Linked DNA regions of Homo sapiens: region 1 is linked to region 2. Evidence: fine-mapped expression QTL. A gene starts in region 2. The other region holds a variant in brackets. All regions are shown on one strand. Distances are from middle to middle. Region 1 overlaps LOC107986816 (a long non-coding RNA gene). Region 2 holds the start of ZNF804B (zinc finger protein 804B).

The links. PIP is the estimated chance that this variant, and not a neighbour inherited with it, causes the effect.
Region 1: its variant is fine-mapped to the expression of ZNF804B in pancreas (GTEx, PIP above 0.99).

Annotation. Positions count from the first base shown.
Region 1 is chr7:88,691,551-88,694,473 of GRCh38, reverse strand. All of the region lies in intron 1 of LOC107986816 (a long non-coding RNA gene), which reads right to left. Among named protein-coding and RNA genes, the nearest start is that of ZNF804B, 67 kb to the left of the region's middle. The variant T/C (reference allele first, on the strand shown) is at 1,208.
Region 2 is chr7:88,758,157-88,761,079 of GRCh38, reverse strand. ZNF804B (zinc finger protein 804B) reads right to left here and starts at 1,380. Exons shown (of 4, transcript NM_181646.5): 1 at 996-1,380. The coding sequence starts at 1,103. RefSeq lists an enhancer at 690-1,234.

The DNA of each region.
Region 1 (2,923 bases), 67 kb after region 2:
TGCTTTTTCTCATATCATGTTCTTGTACTACTTGGCTTTGGATTAAGATAAGCTTGAATTTGTCTTGGAAAGCTTACCTAACCTCTTTGAGACACAATGTTCTCTTCCATGAAATAATAAGATGAAATTAGATGGCAGGTTTAAAATGTCCATCACAACATCTGACTCTTAGATACTCAATATTGTTCTCTGCCCTATTCAAGCCACTTGTCCCATATACTCTGGTTATAGAAGTGTCTTTGAAGTAAAACCAGAGATGTGGGACAATATAGATGTCATTGTATTGGGCAGAGGTGGATAGTTAGCAGTATGTAAGGACATAAAATTGCTTGGGATTTTCAACTTCAGACACAGACATAGGAAAAAAATATTGAGAGGATTCCCTAAGGTATGGCAAGCTACCAAGTCAGGGAACACATAAATTGTTCCTCCTCAATGAAGTAATACCAATGCTAAATATACAAGTGGTGATAGACAGGGATATAATTGAATTTTTAAAATATATAAACAAACAGAAATGTATTCAGTTATAGGAAAAGTATCACCACCTCATAGGCTAATCAAAAATGTTTCCAGGTTAAGGGACAAAAAAATTTATAATAATTCCAAGGTCTCTTAGATATATTTTTGAAAAATGCAATAACATAATTGGCTCTAATTTTCAATAAACTGCATTTTTTTTTCCAGGGGGAAAGAACAAAGATTAGAACTTGACCAGATACTAAAAAGTGAAAAATGCCCCTAGTTGAACACAGAATTGAACCTGAAAGCGCTCTGGAAACTCAGGGAAGTCTGATTCACAATCAAATGGTTTGCAGATTAATATCTGCAAATTAATAAAGATAATGCTCCTTGTGTCTTTGTATTTTCGGGGTGTGGGATTACTGCCATCATTTGATGGAGAAGAAGTTTTAACTACTAAGTCAGCATGTTTCCATGGTGCTACCTGGTTGCAAATCTGGGATGACATAAGGCACCAGCTTTCTTTACAAACCTTCAAGCTTGGAGGAGGTACAAATCAAATTTGGTCTGAATATTGTAGTTTTGTTTTTCAAGAAGTACTATTTCTGTTTAAGAGTTTTTGTTTGTTTTATAGAGATCTCCTTGGTTAATCCTTTAGCCACACTGATTTGATGCCAAGTTATTGTTTTCCAAATAGTAAATTTTTAAACTTCTTATCTGATTAGTTTTACCTGTTGAGGACAGG[T/C]GTTTTATGCCTCATAATTTTCCCCTCCATACTCATTTATACTTGAATAATTTTCAAGATTCTTGGTGAATTTCCCTTTGAAGGTTTCAAGTCCCTTTAATCCCCAGAATAAATTTATTAATTTATTAATGTTTCCCAAATAAAGAAAAAACCCTATTGGGAATATAGTGTTAATTATTTTTCTCAAGTACATCCACCAATATTGGTGCATACATTTCTCAGGAAATTAAATTTTCCATTAGTTCAATATGCTTGGAATGTTTGAATTAAAAAGAATTTTCCAAAAATGGTCCCAGGCTTCTTTTAAATGATGTTATTAAAAATATAAAGTTCATATTCTAATAGATTACCCAAGAAGGTTACTGCATACAAATTTACCTAAGTTCTTGCTTGTTATTATCTATTTTCCTGTAGTCTTGCTTGGTTCTGGAGGGACAGTTTGGCTGAATATCAAATACTTAATTTACACTAGTTTTTCTCATTAAGCATTTTTTTATACTACTGCTTTAAAATTGGGTTATCAAAAGACCAATGCCAGTCCAATATATCTGTCATTGCAAGTTACATGTTTGTTTATTTAGGCCATGAGGTCATGAGAATTTTTCTTTTAACTCTGAAACCTAATGGTTATTAGAATATGTCTTAAAGTTTATCAGTCTGGGTTAATGATAAACTAAATTTTCTCATAAACTGTATTTTCCCAAGTACCCAGTGGGGTCTTCCCATTTTTAGGTTCAAACTTTTTATTAAATGTCTGGGAAGTTTTCTGTGATTATAATTTCAAACATTATTTTCCAATGTTTTTGTTAATAGTTATTTTCTAATGTCTAATGTCCTAAAGTTTTGCTTTTCACTCTTTGTTTTGTTCAGGGATTGCAATAATACACATATTACTCCTTCTCTTTCTATCTTTGTATCATATTCACTTCTTCACTCATTTTTATTCTCTTAATTATTTTTCTGTTTTTCTTCAATGCTCCTTATTTAATTTTTTAAAATCAATTCTCTCATGGGCGTCTTAAAATCCATTCTTCATTTCTATGTTAATTTTGTCTTTTAATTCCATTTCTTTTTTGAATTCAATCAACTTTCTTTTAATTTTTACTGGTTTTTTCCATGTCTAGCCTCAGATTTTGAATTTCTGATTTAGATTATTTTTTCAAATCTTCATTTACTTGTGAGACTATCTCATTCCATTTATAGTTTTGACTTGGAGTTTTCTTCTGCTTCATGGTTATTAGTCTGAGGGAAAATTTCCTCAGTTAATATGTGTTGAATTTTGTTTTCAGATTTCTTTCAAAAGCTCATTTTGAATCTGTTAATCTTCTCTTGTCTATTTTTTTATGTGTGGTATTACAGTGTTTTACAAGATTTTTAATTTAATGATACTCCTGTCTCACAGTATTTCAAAACTCGAAAACTTCAATGGTTTTGTTTGTTTGCTTTTATGATAGGCAATGGGATTGTGAATTATCTAGTTTTGTGTTCCCCTTTTGTCTTGCGGGATTCAAAAATGTCCTCTTTCATTTAATTCACTATCCCATTGGCCAGAGGTGCCTTCTTTATGGTTTCTTTCTCCTCCAAAGAAGCTTTGTGTTTTAAATTCTGCTTCTTTAAGTTGTGAAACTCTTAAATATCTTTTCTGTGGCTCATGCTCTGTCTTACCTGGACATTATTTTAGTATTTTTAGAAAAGAGTGGACTTAGTTTTTCTGGC
Region 2 (2,923 bases):
ACATAAAAAAATTAAAGTTGGGCAATTTCAGTTTTCCCTCTTGATATCATACAGACTTAAATACTGTTTTTTATATGAAACCTCAAAAGTTGGTCTTTAAGTTTGGATACTTAGTCACTAGTAGTCCAAAACTAATATATATATATATTTATTATATATATATTTATTATATATATATTTATTATATATATATATAAATTACACACACATACACATTCACACACATTTTCTTGAAACATATTTGGAGCCTTAAAACATAATAGCATGTACCAAGAAATGAATTAATAATGTATTTAACTCATATAATCTGGATGAAATTATTTTATAAAAAGAATGTGAATAAACTGAATAGTAACTAAATTGAATAGTTTACTAAGTTAAAAAGCAATCACGTTAATTGCATGTTAATATATTTGTATATTATACAATAAATTATCCAACTCAGATTTCCATAAAGAATTCTCTTACTTCCCCTTAAAGAATGTGCATAGTTGAGCATTAGATATAATCAAGTTTTCACTACCTATAACTTTCCTTTTGCCAATGATTTGAGGGAAAATCTTTGAGTTTTTCTCACAAAGTAACAGTAGCATTATTAAACTAATCTCAACTGATGACTTTACAAAAGCACATTATAACGTGCCACTCAAACTTTCTACACTGCTCAAATCAGCAGATTCGTAAGTTGACATAGCACAGAGGAGCTACCTTCTGAGCCCTGCAGTTGACTGCATTCAGTAAGTATTTACATCCGTAGCACTATAGATCCTACTGACTGAATTGAAAATACACATGTAAATACACACCCCTCTCTGTGTCACAGTCTGTCAATAAATTGTATAAACGGACACGATGTATCTCCATACCTATGGATAAGGTATACGTTTTAGATGTCCACCACCTACTCATTGTATCAGGATACTATCTCTCAATATCTTTTTGTTTGTGTTGAGTTGGAACGTTTGTGTATGTATGTGTGTGCGCGCGCACATTACCGGAGAGGGAGATCCGTTCTTGCACAGGGGTCCCCTGAAGACTCCTTTAATGCCCCGGTAGTGCCCATTGCTGAGATGTCTCGAACTGATGACCAGGTAACAAGCCATGTGGGTCCGGGCGGAGGCGCAGAGTCTCAACTCCTCACCAGGCGACCAGCCGTGGAAAGCGGGCGGGTTTCTCAGCGGCAACAGCGACTACCACCTCCCGAGAAGACGCGGCCAGCAGGACGCAGGGGGAGGCGGTGGCAGCGCGTCCCTGCTCCGCGCCCCGTGCGGGGCTCCTGCTGCCGACAGCTGCTGCTCTGACAGAGGCGGCGGCGGCGACAGCACAGAGCACGGAGGGGACCCGGCGAGCCAGTCCACATGCTGCTCTGACGAGGTGGCTGCTCAACCGCGGGCCAGCGATATATTTATTTAAGGACAACTTCCAGGGTCCACCAGGGAATCAGGAATTCCCCCGCCCCTTTCCTCCCGCCCCCTGCCTTCGCGCCTGGCGCCTGCCCGGGGGATGCTCAGGCGCGGGTACCCATCGTCCGGCCGGGGGCGTCCTGGGCTGCTGGCTGCAGTGTGAAGATCCAGCAGCAGCCGCCGCCACCGCCGCTGCTTTGTGGGGAGAGTGGCGGGGAGTCCTTGGGAGCGCCAAAGCGCTGCCCCCGCTGCAGTCGGGAGAGGGCGGAGGAGGAGACGGGCGGGCCGGGGTGAGGACAGGGAGTTGGGGACGCGGCGACCTGTGCTTGAGGAGGGCAGTTAGCGCCTCTGCTGGGAGCTGTGGGCTCGGGGCTGCCCAGGAGGCTCAGGTGTGCTGTGGGGCGAGGCCAGGAGGTGACAGCTGCCGCTGCAGCCGCGGGGGGCTCTCGGGGCTGCAGGACCCGCCTCTCCCACCTCCCGGCCTCAGCCGCCCAGCCCCCCGGTTCTTCTGCCCTATCTCTGAGCCAACTTTCTACTGTTTGGGAGTCACCTGGGAGGACTGGGGAGGCTGTGGTGGAGGAGATGGGCAGGAGGAGGGCGTTTTCTTTACTCTTTCGTTGCCTGCTGGCCTTCAGCTTTTCTTCAGCGCTCTGGCTGACGGCGGCGTTGGCAGAAGCAACAGCTCCCCAGCCGGTTGCAAGAATGAGCTGTGCAGCCACAAATAGGGCAGACAGATTAGATGCGCCGTGGTAGGGAACGCACGGACGAGGAAAGTTTTGGGCAGAAAACTTATATAAGGTATAGAAACGAGACATGCATACGTATATGTGCATATACATGCACGTACCCAGAGTTATGAAGATTCACTTACAAGCCTTTCTGTATCTTAGCGAGGCACATATTTTTGGTCTCTATAAGACCTCTGTGCTTTCAAAACCCCCAATAATCACCCCTCTCAGAAGTGGTTTTTAACGGACCTTATTTCGTTTACCGTAATTTAAGCCACCAGGGAGCGAGCTGCACTGAGAATAAAAAGACCTGGGCAGAAATGTGCTCTGAAAGGAGAAGATAGCCCTCCCAGGGTTTGGAGACACCCTGCACTCTCCTCCACCCCGCGGTTGCTTAATGCGGTTCTGCAATCCATCTCTGCCTCACCTCGCCTTGTCTGTGCCTGGGAGAAGGTAAAGGTTCACCTCCTCTCAGTCTGTTGCTTCAGCGCTGGAATTGAAAGGCTACCGCCAATGCGCTAATTCTCCCCAGTATTGTCCTCTCCTGTCTCCCACAATGCCCCATTCGCATCCCGGTTGACATTGACACAAAAGCAGAAACAGGTTAAAAGGAAAAAAAAACTGTTAATTTAATTTTTCCTATTCAGGCAACTCATAAAATTCTTAAGCAAAAAAGGAACAAAAAAGAATCTAATTATAACTTTTGTAACTACCCAATAAAAGCTTGACTTTTTGTTTACATCATTACAATGGCTTAATATCCTTAATATTTTATTTAAAAAATACATAGAT